Linked DNA regions of Homo sapiens: region 1 is linked to region 2. Evidence: fine-mapped expression QTL. A gene starts in region 2. The other region holds a variant in brackets. All regions are shown on one strand. Distances are from middle to middle.

Region 1 (8,540 bases), 18 kb before region 2:
GTCTGTTGGACAGTACTGCTCTGATTTAGCCAATGCCTGCTGCTTTGTACTAGATTGTAAGCACAGAATAACAGAGTCGATATCTGTCTAATTTTACTTTCTGTCTCTAGAAAGTAGCACAGACACCAGCACAGAAGCAGACAGTAATCAAGTTTACAGAAAGAAGGCAGGAAGGGAGAGAGAGAGAGACAGGAGAGATGAAGAAGGAGGAGAAGAAAGGAGGAAGGGAAGGAAGGAGGAAAAGGAGGGGAAGGGAAGGGAAGAGAAGGGAAGGGAAGGGAAGAAAGGAAGGAAGAAAAGGAGGGAGAGAGGGAGGGAATAAGGCAGAAAGGAAGCCCCCAGCCCATCCACATGGAGCAGTTTGCAGTTTGGGACCTCAGGCCTGGCGAACAGAAGTACAGAGCACAGGTCAAAACAGCCTGGGTGTGGAGGGAGGGAGACTCCAGGATGCTAGCGTTTACTAAGCACTTACTATGTGCCCGGCACCGTCCTAATTCCTAATTCCCTGCAGTTTCCACATTACACCCTACGATTGTTATCCGATTTCACACAGAAGGAAACTGAGGCTGGAGAGGTGAAACAGCTTGTCTAGGCACACGGGACCATGAGTAGCAAGCCAGGGTCAAGCCAGGCAGGCGGCTCCAGGGCTGGTTCCTTCCCCTCGCACCACTGAGGTCAAAGGTGGGAGGATGCCGTGAAACAGAGGCCGAGTGTCCACACTCCCTTCCTTCTCTCCTGGGCCCGGAAACCTCTAAGACTTTGCCAATACCCTCTGGTCAGCCCCCACCAGCCCTGGCAGCTGCCCACTGAGCCAGCCCCTCTGCCCAAGGCCCCTCCCTGGGGCGATGGCAGCCAAGGGGGCAAGTCACATGGCTGCCAGCTGGAGCCCAGGCGGCCGATCCACACAGGAGCCCTGTCCGTGATGTCAGCACCACCAAAGCATCCTCATTAACCGCCCCCTGGGTGACGCAGCCCAGCTTTTCTGCGTGGGATGGGTGGGGGACTCACTGAGACCCAGGTGTTCGCAAGAAGCCAGGATGGAAAGTATGACTCGCTCCTTCCCAAACATGGGATGGCTTTTCCATTGCTAATATCCGAGGAATCCGGTGAAGTAGTGGAAAGACCGAGAAGGCGGGAGACTGGTTCTCACCCTGGCCCATCCTGGCTTTAGACCAGAAGCCCAGAGCCTCAGTCTCCCCTTCTGTCCACCAGAAACCACAGCCCTGTCCAGCTCCGACTCTCCAAGGTGCCCAGGTGTCAGTGAGGCTGACAACACAGCAGTCACCTCGGGGCTGCAGCCTTTTAAGCTTTTGTTTGTTTTCCAAGCATGTCTTTGGGAGTGAAGATCCATCAATCATGACATAAATTTCATTTCAGAAGTTATATTTTACTAGTAGGAGTACAAAGGACTCAAGAATTCAGAACTGGATCTCCCTCCCAGACACCCTCAGGATGTCCCAGCCTTGCCTCTGGAACAGCCAGACTTCCAGCAAAATGAGGACCCGGAAGCTGTGCTGCGGCCACCAGTACTGACTGTGCTTCAGGCTTGCTTGCTCCTCACCCACCCTGGGAGGTTGGTACTGCTGTTATTTCCATTTTACAGCGATTTACCTCCCTGCCAAAATTAGACCAACTCTTCACCATCACTTCCTCTAGGAAGCCATCCCTGACTCCCAAGTCTGAGCCAATTCCCTTCCCAGGTGTCCTCCAGACCCTAGAGTGCACTATGCAGTGTGTCCTGCCACATCAAGGCTTCCTCTCCTCTCCTGGTTTTGCCCACTCTGAGAGCAGCAGACCTGGCAGGTAGGGCCCAGCCGCCACTCAGCCAGCCCCTGATAGGTGCACCCCATATTCCTCCTGCCCTGATGTTAGGGGGCCATGGTGAGGACCTGATGCCATGCAGCTCACAGGCCTCCAGCTTTTGGGGCCAGAATCAACCTGCCCATCTCTTGTGCAACCAGCTTCTCCTTAAAGGCACTCAAATCTTGGGACTGAGAAATTAGTGGCCTCCCAACCTGCGACTCCTCAGGAGTTCAAGGCAGGCTTTTTTTTTTTTTTTTTTTTCTTTTAACTCAACTCACCCTCTTCCCCCGTTTCATTTTCCCACCCTGACATTTCCTTTAGCTGGACCAACTTCTATATTTTATTTTAATGTTGGTGTTTCTAGTCCTGCTGGCTACCCATGAGGCAGAATGTCTGTAAATGCAAAGAAATAGGACAATTTGCCCAAGGAAAGGATTTCTTTAAAGTGAATTCTGAGTGTCCTTCCTCTTTCAGAATGTTCCTTCTCCCTAAGTGCTCCCTCCTCTGGAATGCTCCCTCTCCCTGGAGTGCTCCCTCTCCCTGCAGTGCACCCTGTACCCTCTTGCTCCCTCTGCCTGGAGTGTTCTCTCTCCCTGAGTGCTCCCTCTCTCTGAGTGCTCCGTCTCCCTGAGTGCTCACTCTCCCTTGGGTGCTCCCTCTCCCTGAGTGCTCCCTCTCCCTGCAGTGCACCCTGAACCCTCTTGCTCCCTCTCCCTGGTGTGTTCTCTCTCTCTGCGTGCTCCTGCTCCCTGAGTGCACCCTCTCCCTGTAGTGCTCCCTCTCCCTGCAGTGCGCCCTGCACCCTCTTGCTCCCTCTCCCTGGAGTGTTCTCGCTGAGTGCTCCCTCTCCCTGAGTGCTCCCTCTCCCTTGGGTGCTCCCTCTCCCTGAGTGCTCCCTCTCCCTGCAGTGCACGCTGCACCCTCTTGCTCCCTCTCCCTGGATTGTTCTCTCTCTCTGAGTGCTCCTGCTCCCTGAGTGCACCTTCTCCCCATAGTGCTCCCTCTCCCTGCAGTGCACCCTGCACCCTCTTGCTCTCTCTCCCTGGAGTGTTCTCTCTCTCTGAGTGCTCCTGCTTCCTGAGTGCACCCTCTCCCTGCAGTGCTCCTTCTGCCTGGAATGCTCCCTCTGCCTGGAATGCTCCCTCTGCCTGCAACTTTCTGCCCAAAGTGCTCTCCACTCTCTTCTCCTGTTGAGAAGCTGCTCATACTCCTTGAGGCTCAGCTCAGGCGACCGCCTCCCAGGAAGGCTTCCTGGACTCCTCCATCGCCTCCTCTGTTCTCCCATGCACCATGCCCACCCCCTCATGCTTCCTTTCTCACCACATTCACCATCTGTGTCCTTATCTTCCCTCCTCACCTCTCCTGCCTCTAGCCAGGCTCTGAGCTCCCAAATGGCAGACCAGGGTCTCATGCCTTTGGGGAGGCAGGGGTCTGTCCCAGTGCCTAGCCCAAAGGAGGCCTCCGTGAGTCGGCTGCTGAAAGCCAATAATCCCAGGCACCCTGGCTGGGAAGGATCCAGCCCTGTACACCATCCCCATCCTTGAAAGAGTGATCTTATTCATGTATATCTGGAGAAGCTGGAAGGATGCTTAGAGAGCGTCTCTACAACCTCCTCTTTTAGCTCTGGTGAAACTGAGGCCCAGACAGGGAGCATCTTGCCCAAGATCGCCTTCTCTGAACCTCTTCCTCCTGTCCTGAGCCCTTGCCATGACAGAGCTGAGCTCCCCAGCACCTTGGCAGAAATGAACCTGTGTGCACGCTCCCCACCCACACAGGTGTGCGTGTGCGCAGGGACCCTCACAGCCACTGCCTCTGCAAGATGGGCAGGCAGTGCTCACAGACCCCTAATCAGGTGAGGATACCGAGTCTCTGGAGGACAAGTGATGGGTCGCCAGTCAGCTGCGGGGCGGGGACATCAGACTCTGGGTTGTGGCTCTGTCACCTATCACAAATGTGCCCAATCCAAATTTACAGAAGTTGCTGGAATCACCTGGTCAGGCACATGTACATAAAAATCAGCTGCAGCTGCCTACCTGGCACGTGTGCTTTTTCTGTCTTGTCTGTTTAAACCATGTCTGAGCAGGTGGGGAGGGGTGCCGCAGGACACACATGTGGGCCTGGCGCCTTTCTGGGCTCAGTTGAGCACATTGTAGTTTAGCAGCTCTTGGTGAGGTCCCTGTCCTTTCTCTTTGCACATCCACTTACGGCCCCGGAAGACCCTGTTGACAAGCTGTTGTCCCTGTGACCGGGAAACCCAGTGGCAGGGACTGTGGCACAGCACAGAACAGTACCATGCAGTTTTTAAAAGGGACATTGGTAAGAGGTTGATGACAAATGTTATTTTCCAGGAAAAAGTCAAGACGCTGAATTGAAAGTTCACCCTGGGCTGTGAGGAAGAATTTGCCCCAAGGGGAGAGAGGAGGCGAGGGAGT[T/C]CCTCTCCACGCAGCAGAGCTCTCCCTGGGTTGGGACAGTCATTGGGGGCAGCCTTTATTTCCTTACTGATCATTTACAGGATCTTTAAAAATCAACCTAATAAAAGAAAAATAAGAAGGGCAGGAAGGAGGGAGAAGCAGTCACCTCCAAGGGCCTAAGATCTTTTGGACCTGGTCGCAAAGGGACTCTCTCTCCAGGAGGGTCGCCAGGGCCGCAGGGTCCGGGACCAGGCCCAGGGTCCAGCTAAGCCCGGGCCAACACGGGGACACATGCGCACACCCGGACACACCCGCACGCACCCGCACACGCACGCGCCCGTGGGCCGCGCCCCGCCGCGCCGGGGGCCCGCATTGACATTCTGCGCAGTTCCCAGCCCGCGGCGCCGCGTGGGGACAGTGGCGCATTGTTCCCCGGACACGCCGGGCGGCGCAGCGCCCTCGGGGCTTGGCGCGGCCCCGCCGCGATTTGCATGCGCTCCAGTCACAAAGGTTCAAGGTCAGGAGCGCCGGGCGGGGCTGGTCTTCGCCCCGGCGGCGGGAATTCCTCGCCGCCCGCGCCCGGGACGCCCCTGCGCGTGAATGGCCGAGCGCCGCCACCGTCTGAGGTGCTTTGTGTCTCGCCCCGGCCAGCTGGGCCCGCGAGGGACGTGCCAGCTCGGCCGGCGGCGTCCCCGCGCCAGCGCCCCTCGCCCATGCTAATCAGCCTGGCAGCGCGTCTGGGCGGGCGGCCCGGCCCGGCCTGGGAGCCCCTCACGTTCCCTGCCGGGAGCCCCCTCCTACCAGGCCCCCTCCCCCAGCTTCCCCTGCCGCCAGGAGACCCCACTTACTCTGCCAGGAGCTCCCCACGACCCTAGCTGCCAGGTGCCTCCACCCGATTCCACCTCCACTCCTCCTGCCAGAAGACCCCCTCTCCGGCTGCCGTGGGTGCCTTCTGCCCAGCCAGAAGGGCGGGTGCACCTTGCAGGAATGGCTGGCTGGGGAGCCTGGGGCGTAGGACCCTTCTGGGACTCTGACAGGACTCTCTGTGGGGCCTGGGGCATCTTCTCTCAGCCTCGATTTCCCCTGAACAATGAGGCAGGTTGCCCTTCATGATCTCCAGAGGCACTTCCAGAGCTGGGGTCTCCCAGCAGGTGCAGGGAAGGTAGTGGTAAAGATGGCATTCCCCCAGCTCCCGCCTGCTCTGCCATTATCCAGCCTGCTGGCCTGGGGACAGTCACCCTGAGCCCTGAGTCTGGGTCACCGTCTCCAGAGATGCCTTGAGGACTAACGGAGCTGAGCATTCCACGTTGGGACCAGCCCTCAGAGTGTTCTGCCCTTATCATCATCCTTCCCACAGTGTAGCCCTGCTCAGGCAATATTATCATCCACCCGCTAGACTGGGAGCTTCGAGTAGGCAAGGACTTCTGAATTCCCACAGCACAGTGGCACCCAGGACGCACTGAATGACCTCACAGTTGGATAGGTGAAGGCCCACCAGTGTGGGTCACTCTGCACGATGGTGGATGGGGACAGGTCACCGCATTTGGCATTTCCAGTACTTGGAAAGAGGCTCAGAGCCTTTCTTGGGAGGTGGGAGCAGGCTTCTCCTGGGAGCTCCCCACTGGGTGTGTGGGCTCCATTGTCCAACAGGAACGTCCCCACCCCCAAGCCTCTGGGGAAGTGAGCAAGTTGTCTTTCTGCAGAAAGGTGTGTGCAGGAACACAGTGCCTGGCCAGGATGCCCATCAGGAGGTCTAGAGACTGGAACTGCAGACCTGGGGCCTCCGGCATGAGGTTGCCAAGGACCCACAACTTCCTGTAGCACTTTCCTCCTGGCACGTGTGAAGTCAGCGGCCCCACCTGATACCAGAGACAGCCCCCAGTGTTGGGGGCATCATGCTCGAGGGTGCGTTTCCCCCAGAGCACAAGAACCTGGGCCCCATAGACAAGCAGCCCCAGCCAGTCTCAGGCCCAAGAAAGAGGGACCAGGTGAGGCGGTGAAATGGGCACCAAAGGAGAGAAGCCAGCCTCAGACAGACCCTCAGACAGCAGAAAATCTAGCCTGGGGGTTCGAGGCCTTTCCCCAGCCCTCTCTCATTTCCCTCCAAACCTTAAATATGAAGTAGACATAATTACATGTACCTCGCTGCTCTAAGAATCACTTAGGGCCAGACGCAGTAGATCTTGCCTGTAATCCCAGCGCTTTGGGAGACTGAGGTGGGCGGATCACTTGAGCTCAGGACTTCCAGACCAGCCTGGGCAACATTAGTGTGATACCTTGTCTCCACAAAATAATAATAATAATAATAATAAGGCCGGGTGCAGTGGCTCATGCCTGTAATCCCAGAACTTTGGGAGGCCAAGACGGGAAGATCACTTGCGGTCAGGATTTTGAGACCAGCCTGGCCATCATGGTGAAACCCCATCTCTACTAAAAACACAAAATTAGCCCAGCGTGGTGGCACACGCCTATAGTCCCAGCTACTGAGGAGGCTGAGGAGGGAGGATTGCTTGGGCCCCAAGAGGTCAAGGCTGCAGTGAGCCATGATCACACCACTGCACTCAGCCTGAACAAGACCCTGTCTCAAAATACAGAATCACTTAGAAGCCTGGATGTTACCCTCCCTACACTGTGTTGCTAGCATCAGTTTCCTATGCGTCCCTAACCCCGTCCCTGCTTAGCTGGCTGGATACCACCCCCAGCTGTTTTCCAGCCACCCCAGCTTTGTCTTGCACATGGTGCTCTCCTGCCCGTGGAATGCCCTCTCAGCCTGCCACTTGCCAATGAGCTCATCCTGCAAGGCTTGGTTCAGATACCACCTCCTCCAGGAAGATGCCCTTGATCCTTTCCTCCTCTCTTTTCCCACCTGCCTAGGTTTTTGATGCCATGATAAGGAATTCGGCTGCAGATCCTAGGGCAATAGGGAGCCACTGCAGGCTCTAAACAGGGAGCAGTGACCCAGCAACTCTCCCTGGTGGCCTCTGCAGGGAGCATGCAGACAGGGGTTCTCAGACATCCGGAATTCACAGGCTGGTCAAATTTCAAAGGAGTATTGCAGACCTACGGAAGATTGCCAACTTTCTATTTTTCCATGTTAGGGCCTTTAGAAAAATAATTACAATTTCCCTTTTTGAGAGAATATCTTTAAACCAAAAAAAAAAAAAAAGTAAGAAGACAATCTCAGGGCAAAGGCCATTCCATTGTGCTGGATAAACAGAGCCTTATGGAAAACTCGCCACATGGTCCTCACATTTGATGGTTGGAAAACAGCTAGCGGTGGTATCCGGCCTAACAGCTGGAACCGTGATCAGGGCTGGGCCTCCATATAGGTGTGGCCTCCTCTCGGCATCCCTTCCTGCCCCAGACCACAGGTTTCCTGAACCCCCTAGACCAAGTGGGTTTCCTGGCTGGTCCCCTGGCTGCACTCAGGCCCTCTAACCTGGCGGTTCTCAGAGGTCAACCCAGATGAGTATCGGGCTGGCCAGTGTGATGAGCGCCCACCATGGGGAGGCCCCTGGGGCAGCCTGCAGCTCCAGCACTCATGGGTCACTGCAGCCTCGACTTCCTGGGCCCAAGCAATCCTGACTCCAAGATGCAAGGACGCTTATGAGAATAGAGAAGAGGGGACAAGGCACAGATGCCCTCTGTCCCCACAGTGTGAGGCAAGGAGCAAACTTGTGTGTGCATGAGCCTGGGGCCACCCATGGGGGAGGGAATGCCTGATGCATGACCAGCCTGAGTGGAGCGTCCACACTGAGCCTTGCAGATTGTTCTAGAAGGAGATTCATCCTCCCTTCCAAGGGCAGGCTCTACTGTGGATGTTCTGCTGATCAGACAGTGGGTACTATCAGTAATTAGCATTGAAATCCTGCGCTCAGCCTCAGAGCTGGGAGGCCCAGGGTGACCACTGAGGACAGCTCAGCATTGAAGAGAGGCCTGAAGATGATTAGGGGCAGGGTTACACTGGTTACACCTGCTCTATTAGGTGACGTGAATTTGTAATCTTGTTTCCAGCTTTCCTTTGCCTTTTAATCCTTCTTTGTCAAGAACAAAATTCAAGCTATCCTGTTACCAAATGATCACATGTTTGAAATGTGAGGTCTGGAATAATCTCCGACCAGTGCTAGCCCATGTATCAGTGCTCAGCCGCTCGCTTTAACCAGGCTGTGTTGTCCTGGACTTGCCCCTCCAAATATGATGTGACTCAACACTCATGTCAGGCCCTGGGCTAGGCACCGAGGACGCTCAAGACACAGTCCTTGGCCGGGCGCGGTGGCTCACGCCTGTAATCCAGCACTTTGGGAGGCCAAGTTGTGGGGGGGGGGG
Region 2 (9,116 bases):
TTTTTTCCAGCTGTAGCAGGCCAGGGACATGGGGCTGGGCCCTGGACAGGGTGGTGAGGACATCCCGGTTCCCACGAAAAGCAACCGCCTGGCAAGTCTGGAGCAGGCGAAGAGGGAGTGAGGGGGTGTGGCTCGCTCCCCAAGTTCTTTGGCTCAGCTTCAGTGCTGGGTCATTCTTGGGGACTGCTATGCCCACTGGGCACTGCAGAACTTCTGGTGCGTGTGGCTAAGGGGAGTCGGGAAGAGCCCTGTCCCTGGACCAGACCTTCCTGTTGGGAGTACTGGGACCCAGTGACCTTGTGCACCTTTCCTGAAGCTTCTGGGCCCCAAGTGGTCGAATGCAGAGTGGGCTGGGGAGTCACAGACTGTGCTTCCTGCTTTCAACCTCCGTTCCAGGTTCCTGTGCGTTCCGTGGGCCCATCCACCTGGCTGGGCTTGGCTAGGCTGTGACCTTCTCTGAGGACAGGGCTCTGCCTGCATTTGGAGCTGCTGGGACCTCAGTGTCACCCCCCACTCTCGCCAGCTGGCCTCACAAAGGTGCCCAGGAGGAGACCTGATTGCCGACTCCTTTCCCCTCCCTGGCTGAGCAGATTCTACAACAGCCTGTGGAAATTAAAATAAGAGCTTAAAACTGTCAAAAAAATTTTTTTTAACCAAGTCACAAATGGGAAAGCTGAGGCGGCAGCAGGTTAAGGACACTTTGTGATGTAGCGTTCTCTCCCAGTGCTTTCGTACTGTAAACATCACAGTCCACGGTCCCTGTGAACAGGCAGCCACAGAGACTGGGTTTAGACTTGCCGGGGAAGGCTGCATCCAAAGTGGGGCCAGCTCAGAACTATTCCACCACATGGGGGGCCATTAGTTCTGCTCAGTTCTGTGGGGCCTCACTAGTGTTTCTATTTAAAAATAAGTCAAGGTAAAAGAAAAAGTTTCAAAATGTAACAGTCACGTATCTATTTCTGTAATTGTAAAGAAATACACTGTCATGTGACGGCTGGAGGCTCTGGAGCAGAGGGCCTAGGAGGAATTTTTTTTCTTTTTCTTTTTCTTTCCTGAATTCTCCAAACCGTCTATCACAGTGTGTATTGCTTTTATAACGGGAAGAGATAAAATAGACTTACATTAAAAATAATCAAACTGCACCTGTGCCTACATGTCAAATGATAAACGTGACAATCAAAGGCACTTTTTATTTATCGAATACCTGGTTCATGCCACATCTCCTGCTAGGCCCTCCCAGCGTGCTGGCTCCTCAGAACACCCTGCAGGTGGGAGCTGGGCACCAGGGTCCCTGAGGCAGCATTCAGCACCCACGTGGCAGAGCCAAGGCTGGACAGGGATGATTCCAACATCCAGGATTGTATTATGCTTATAACGACTTCCTGCCTGTTTGTATTTAAGACAAGGTCTCTCACTGCAGCTTTGACCTCCCGGGCTTGAGCAGTCTTCCCACCTCAGCCTCTGGAGTAGCTGGGAGTTACAGGTGCACACCCCCATGCTTGGCTAATTTTTGTATATTTTGCATAGACAGGGTTTCGCCGTGTTGCCCAGGCTGGTCTGGAATTCCTGGGCTCGTGCGATCCACCAGCCTCGGCCTCCCAAAGTGCTGGGATTACAGGCGTGAGCCACAACGCCCAGCCCCTGTCTCTTAAAGGTGAACATTTTCCCTAAATACAATGATCTTCAGTTAAAATATTTGTATCTTACATAGAATCTGGAATTATTTCTGTAAACAGAATTTAGTAAAAGAAATATAAAAATCAGCTGGGCACGTTGGCTCACGCCTGTAATCCCAGCACTTTGGGAGGCCGAGGTGGGCGGATCACAAGTTCAGGAGATCGAGACCACCACCCTGGCCAACATGGTGAAATCCCGTCTCTACTAAAAATACAAAAATTAGCTGGGCATGATGGTGCGCACCTGTAGTCCCAGCTACTCAGGAGGCTGAGGCAGGAGAATCGCTTGAACTCGGGAGGCGGAGGTTGCAGTGAGCCAAGATCGCACCACTGCGCCACTGCACTCCACCCTGGTGACAGAGCAAGACTGTGTCTCAAAAAAAAAAAAAAAAAAAAAAAGGAAAAAGAAAGAAAGAAAAAAAGAAATATAAAAATCATAGATTTTTACCTTATTTTACCTTATGACACTGTTGACCAACAGCCAAAGTCAGAATCAATTATGTAACTCTCAGAGCCTAGAACAAAATGAAAATATGGGTTCCCTTGTTCAAGAATGACTAAGAATTTTAAGACCGGGGACAGCCAAACATTGAGTGTGGGGCCCTTCTGCACACCGGCCCTCTACCACTGGGCAAGCCACACAGCCACAAAGTCAGCCCTGGACAAGTTATTGATAGTGTATGATAGAACTAAGGTGACGGTTCCCTTTGGGACACACTCTAATCACCAGTGACCACCAGTCAGAAAACAAATGGGCTCAAGCCGCAGGAAGATGAGCCGTTCCCAAGGCATTTTCCAATCCAAAAAATAGCGGTCGCAGCTCAGGAATGAAGTTCCCAGTGAGGATGCAGCGGGAGACACAGCCAGCCTTCCCTCCCCAGGAAAGGGCCAGGCCCTGCATAGGAGCTTTCATTAAAAACCAGGGAGGCTGCAGATTCTCTTGAAATGACAACACGCTCGTGCCACACCTCGATAGAGCTTCAGTCACTCTGCTGTGGAGCGTGCGAGGCTGACCATCCTAGGCCTTGGGGAGAAATCATGACAGCTGATGCCAGTGCTTGTTACTGGGAAAACACAGTAAGAAACTTCATCCCTAAATGTTTATACCTACTATGTACTCACAAAAATTTAAAAAAAGATTTAGTATGAAAATGTAAAGTATCTCATTAATCTTTATCTTGATCGTATGTTGAACTGATAATATTTTGGATATATTGGTTTAAATAAAATATATTAACTAAAAAAAAAAAAAAGGAAAACTTCATCCCGCCGCCTCTGAGAAAGGATCTTGGGGTTCATTGGCAGGTAAATGCTCCCCCAAAGGAGGTCCACTGTGGATGCTGGAAACGAACTGTCAGCTGACAAGCATCTGTAGCTCTGAAAACAAGGGCTCCACACATTGTCCCAGCCAGCGCCCCACCAGCCCATCCCCATTACCTCTATGTCTTCAGCCCCACGTCAGGTTCTGGAAGTTTCCAGGGGGAGTGGACAGTACCCTCAGGGGCTCTTGGGGCTGAGACCTCTTCCATGAATCACGTATGGAAGCCCAGGACCAACCTCAGAGAGGATCATGTCTGAGAAGTCGTTTGAGGGGAAAAATATCCACTTAAGAGAGAGGTTCTCCAGCCCTTTGGAGCATCACACACGTTTGTGGGACAAAAGACAAATATTCCTCCCACCCCAATCCCCAACCAGGCTCCTTGTTCATTTTTCTTTAAAAAACAACAACAAAAAAAAAATCCGCATTCTCCCCAGCCTGAAATAGTGCTCTGGAGGAGCTGGCCTGGCCCGGAGTGTCTTCTCCGTAAACACACCTGGTGAGGAAGAACAGGAAGGACGGACAAAGGGAGGCCTCAGGCCCAGCTGGCAGCCAGATCTGTGCCTCCCAGCGCCTCCAGGGCCCTTGCAGTCTCGAGAGATGTGGCTTGGCCACTTTTGCAGATTCCCAGGCCTGGGGCCACTCAGTTGCCTCCCCCAGCCCAGGTGTCTCCTCGGGACCCTTGCCTGGGAGGGTTTGAAGCCAGGCAGGGAAAAGAGGGCAGAAAATGGTGGTGCCGGGGAGCTGGGCCGGGCCAGCAAATCATTCCGCAAGGTGGAGAACTGCAGGCTGAGGGCACCGTGGGCCTGGGCCCGGGACCCAGCATGGAACCCCTTCTCCTGGAGCACCAGGGGTCACAACAGTCCCTCCACTCCAGGGATCACGGGTGACCCACGGCCGGGTGCTTTGGGGACGAGACAAAGACAGCGTGTTCCTCAAGCCCCTGCCTACCGCTCCGTCACTGGGGCCATGGTCTGCGTGCCAACAACCTTTTAGGAAGCATCTTGTGCCCAACCTCACCACCCCGCAAAAAAACCTGTGTCCAAAACACTTGGCAGTGGGGCTTAAAACGCTCAGGTGCCCCGAGGAGGCGCCGGGAGATGAGCCCAGAGCGGTGGCTGGCGAAGGCCCCAGCAGGACTGGGGCGTGGAACTTGCTTGTTTACCTAAGAGAAAAACACGACGAAAAAAGCTTCTGGGTAGAATTGGAAGTTCTGGGGCTCTCGGCGCCGCGGCCTCCGCGCGGTTCTCTTCCTCCCCTCCCCGGCCTGCTTTTCCTCCTTCTTTCCCTCTTTGTTGCCAACCTCGGAGCCGCGACTGAAACCCAGCCCAGCGTGTCCGCGAAGCCCGGAAACTTCCAGCTCCGCGACTGTGCAGAAAGTTGGGGGGCGCGGCCGGGGTGACAGCAGCGCTTCGGGGGCGGCCGCGGCGGCCACCCGGACCTCGGCCTCCCGCGCCTCCCGCTGCCCCAGCCGCGCCCGGGGACCTCGGGCAGCCCGCGGGCCGGACGTGAACTTGACCCTGCGCTGTGCCCGCCTGGACCGCGGCGCGCTCGGGACGATCTGGTAAGCGCTCCCCCTCCCGCCCTCGCCCGGCGGCGCTGGGGTCCGGGTCGGGGTCCGGGCTCGACTGCGAGGGCGTGTCCCGGGGTGGCGGGCGCCGGGGCTCCTCGGCCGCTGCACCGGAGCGCACGGCCGAGCCCGCGGCCCGGCCCCCGGCGAAGTCAGCCCCCAGCCTCCCAAACAAAGACTCGCAAAGTTCGGAAGAGAATCTTTCCCGACATTTTCCCTCCCCTCGGGCTCTGCGCTGCGGCCATCAGGGCTCTTAAAAGAGAACCGAGAGCTCTCTGGTTTTCTCCTGGTGTTTTCTTCCCTGCGCTTTGCCCCCCACCTTTGGCTGGAGGGAAGGAGGAGGGGGCATGGATGCCCCTCGGGCCCTCAGGTGTTGACCCTCCGAGGCCAGGCTGCCCAGGGGCAGCACAGGAGGTGAGGGCCTGTGGGATGAGGGACCCCCGACAGCACAAGGAGGCAAGCCCCTCGCCGCTGCAATGCTCCGGTCCTGGGGCTCAGGTGGAAGTTGCTCCTGATCCCCCCACACCCCCAGCACCATCCTGAGTGACTTCCCTTGACCGTCCTGGGTGACCATCCTGAGCAAGACTCCCTGGCCACCAACTGTCCTGTCGGCTCTGCTTGGGGCAACCACAGTGCCAAGTGAGCCTGGCAGGTGCTGGGTCACAGGACAGCCATGGACAGGGCCTGGGGAGGAGGAGAAGCTGGGGCCCTGTAGAGCCTGTTCCTTGGGGAGCAGGTGAGGGACCCTGCTGCCTCCCCTATTCCTGTCTGCAACAGGCCCAGCCCATACCTCCAGCTAGCTTCTCTGCATGCCACTCTCTCCGCCTGAGACAAGGCCTCTGTCCCTGTGACTGGTCTGATCCCTGGGGGGCACTCCTGGGATAGAAACCTACCCCACCAGTCGGCGGTGGCAAAGCCCTGGAAACTCACAGACCTGTCCTGGGCCTGGGCCTCCACAAGCCTCCCAGTTTGATCAGGTGCCCCCAACCACAGCAGGGACCATCTGTCAGGTCTTACTCCCAGTGGTGGCCAGGTCCCCAGCCTTCCAGAGAGCATTGCTAACTTGCCTCCATCCCTGGGTGCCTACGCTCCCAAAGTCCTCCTCAGGGGAGCACCCAAGCCGAGAGGGCTGGCCAGCCAGAATCTGAGTGGGTCACCCCACCATGTCCCTGGACTCTCTGGCAGGGCTGTCACAGGGCAGCCTACAGGCGTCAGTTGGAGCACAGAGGGTGTTTGCAGTGACGGCAGGGGACAGAGTGCCCAGTTGGCTCTAGCCTGTTGCTGCCATGAGGATAAGGGCTGAGGCTGTTAGAGCTTCTGACTTCAGAAGAAATCCAGATTTGTACATGAAATGTCCAAAATTTGAGCACATTGCAGGACAGAGGAAACACTCTGGGGTTGAACCCAACCCATGCCCCCACCCCGAGACTGCAACTCCTGTGTACGCCTGAACTGGTTAGTGTTCAAAGAAAGCAGATTTCTTAGTGACCCTGGCCCCAGCCCAAGATTTGAGCAGGAGACCCCGGGGATCTGGGGAGCAGGGAGGCAGGAGAGTCTGTATCTCATGGACCCAGCACCACAGGGAGGGTCGGCCTCCACAGGCATGAACTGTCCAGGTAATTAACACTTGCTCGAGCCCACTTAAAGTTAAAATCTCCCTAAAATGAGGAACCTGACCTGCCCCATCCCCAAACCCTCTGGGGGACCTTCTATACCCGCCCAGGGTATAATGAAGGAAAGATAGGATGCAGAAAGTGAACCTGAACTTGAACTTTCTTCATGTCCCAGGCAGTAGAGTCGCAGCATACCAAAAATCCTGGGCTTATAGGGAAGTTCTGCATTGAGGCAGGCCTGCCTCCACCTGCCAGCGCTACCTCATTCTAGCTGGGTAACCTCACCTCTCTGGGCCTCAGTTTCCTCACTCATAAAAGGGGCTTAATAAGAGTTCTGCCAGACAGGTGTGGTAGCTCACACCTGTAATCCCAGCACTTTGCGAGGCCGAGGCAGACAGATCATGAGGTCAGGAGTTCCAGACCAGCCTGGCCAACACGATGAAACCCTGTCTCTACTAAAAATACAAAAATTAGCTAGGTGTGGTGGCACACAGCTGTAGTCCCAGCTACTCAGGAGGCTGAGGCAGGAGAATTGCTTGAACCCGGGAGGCGGAGGTTGCAGTAAGCCGAGATTGCGCCACTGCACTCCAGCCTGGGTGACAGAGCGAGACTCTGTCTCAAAAAAACAAACAAACAAACAAACAAACAAAACAAACAAAAAGAGTTCTGTATCAGTTGCGTTGTTGGGAGAACGGTGACAATCGCTGTGAACATCGATCACTCCGCTAGCACACGGCAGGCACTCAGTATCAGCGGCTGCTGCTCCAGGGGCCCGTGGCTGCTGGCTTCTCTCGCACATCACCTGCTTCTGGGCAGCTCAGGAATTTCTCTCCTACATCTCATGTCAACTTTGCATCGCTTACCTCACCACCTTCTGGCACTTGTTTCCGTACCCTAAAGGAAACAGTCACTGAACACCTCCCCCACACCTATACTCCTGTATGGAGTACTGGGCACAGAGAGAAAAGACGACAAGGTCCTGCCTTAGAAGCTGCCAGATACCCTGTGCAGTGACACCCTCAGGTGAGCTTCTCTAGGCTAATGCCAGAGAAGGTGTTTCCTGTGCAGCCTTTGTTGAATGCCTCCAGAGACAGGCAGCTCACCACCTATCTGGCAGTGTGGCTGCAGAAGCCGTAGGACAGAGTCACCCAGGCATCCTTGAGCCTTAACTGGTAGAAAGAGATGTAGGACAGGTCCATAGGCAGTGCCCCTGAGTCAGAGGCACCTGGTTTTACTGGAGAAAACACATACCTCATAAGAAACTTCTGAAAATTTGGTGAGGTGTACAGAAAGATTTCAGTCTCCAGAAAAAGCACTGCAAATGCTCACGCATGTTTTTACAGAACAGAGCCCTGTTTCCTCTTTTTGCCAACAGCCCATTTAGCAATGCCAGGGCTGTGCCAGTGACCCCACCCACCTCCTAACAAGGCAGCCACTGTCCCGGGGGACAGCCAATATATGCTTTGATTTTTTGAGGTTAATGTCCTTGGGCCCCTGATTTTGGAAACCCTGGACAAAATATAAGGAGTCACTGCATGGGAAATAAACCTACCCCAGAAAGCTGGCTGCGGCATTCAGGAAACTGGAGAGAAAAGTCAAGGTGTCCGGAGGCCCAGGGTTCCTCGCCAGGATCGGCTATAGAGTTTGCAGGGCCCAGGGTAAGAAGAAAATGTGGCCCCCTGGTTTGAAAATGCCTGAGAATTACAAGGTGGTGACGATGGTGTGAATTAAAACGAGCTTGGGGCCCTTCCGAATGCAGGGCCTTCCTAAGCTCAGGGCCCTGTGCGGTGGTATGGGTCACAAACCCACAAAGCCAGCCCTGCCCCTCACACGTGTTCGTGCCGCATGCTGAGGCCCAGGGAGGGACCAAAGGCAGCTTCAGTGAAGGAGTACAACTCCTCGTCTTTGCCATTCTTTTTTTTTTTCTTTAATGCCATCATTGATGTTCCATGCTCATTTTAGAACACTTTGAGTCCTCAGAAAAGAAAAACATTTGTCAATCACCTATGAAAGCACACTCAGAGATAGCCACTGGGAAGGCCTCACCCAGCTTCTGTCAAAACTTTTTTTTTTTTTTTTTTGAGATGGAGTCTCGTTGTGTCGCCCAGACTGGAGTGCAGTGGTGCAGTCTCGGCTCACTGCAACCTCTGCTTCCTGGGTTCAAGCGATTCACCTGGCTCCAAGCGATTCTCCTGGCTCAGCCTCCCAAGTGGCTGGGACTACAGGCGCCTACCACCACCCCCAGCTAACTTGTATTTTTAGTAGAGATGGGGTTTCACTATGTTGGCCAGGCTGGTCTCGAGCTCCTGACCTCAGGTGACCCACCCACCTCAGCTTTCCACAGTGCTGGGGTTACAGGTGTGAGCCACCACACCTAGTCTGTCAAAACATATTTTAAGCAAAATTAGCATCTTATTAGGTGTATCATTTTATCTTCTGCTTGTTTCATTAATATTTTATCACAATATTTTCCTAAGTCAGAAGATACTGTCTTGCAAATGAACTTTCATGACTATTTAGCATATTCCACTGGACAGAGGTCCTTAACTAACCCCTTATTATCAGGCACTTGGGTTCTTCCCAGTTATTTCCAGTTTTCCCCATTGTAGGCAACACTTCCAGGAACATTTGTCTGCACTTTTCTGATTACTTCCTAGCATGATGAAACCCTGCTTTAGTGGTGGGGCTCCCAGTTAAGTCATTAGGGGTGATATTTTGGCTCCAGAAGACTCTTGGGGTGGTCTCTGAAAAACCCCCTTGGCCAAGTACCTCAGCCCCCATGCCTCATGCAGTGACAGTCCCACACCACAGCCCTGGCATTGCATCTGACTTTTTTTTTTTTTTTTTTTTTGAGATAGAGTCTCACTGTCGTCCAGGGCTGGAGTGCAGTGGCGTGATCTCGGTTCACTGCAAACCTCTGCCTCCCAGGTTCAAGTGAT

Which allele goes with the higher level. Positions count from the first base shown, and alleles are read on the strand shown. Sizes are in standard deviations (SD) of each study's normalised expression.
For the expression in skin of the gene that starts at base 4,419 in region 2, allele C in region 1 goes with a higher level than allele T (moderate effect, 0.42 SD a copy in TwinsUK).

Evidence for each region.
Region 1: its variant is fine-mapped to the expression of LINC00899 in skin (TwinsUK, PIP 0.95).

What each region holds. Positions count from the first base shown.
Region 1 is chr22:46,022,823-46,031,362 of GRCh38, forward strand. No RefSeq gene overlaps it. Among named protein-coding and RNA genes, the nearest start is that of LINC00899, 18 kb to the right of the region's middle. RefSeq lists an enhancer at 5,938-6,491. The variant T/C (reference allele first, on the strand shown) is at 4,236.
Region 2 is chr22:46,040,450-46,049,565 of GRCh38, forward strand. LINC00899 (long intergenic non-protein coding RNA 899) reads right to left here and starts at 4,419. Exons shown (of 4, transcript NR_027036.1): 1 at 4,160-4,419; 2 at 3,114-3,250; 3 at 2,125-2,191; 4 at 1-603. It overlaps LOC124905135 (collagen alpha-1(III) chain-like), which reads left to right and starts at 4,195. Exons shown (of 2, transcript XM_047441696.1): 1 at 4,195-4,558. It overlaps PRR34 (PRR34 long non-coding RNA), which reads right to left. Exons shown (of 2, transcript NR_165243.1): 2 at 8,082-9,116.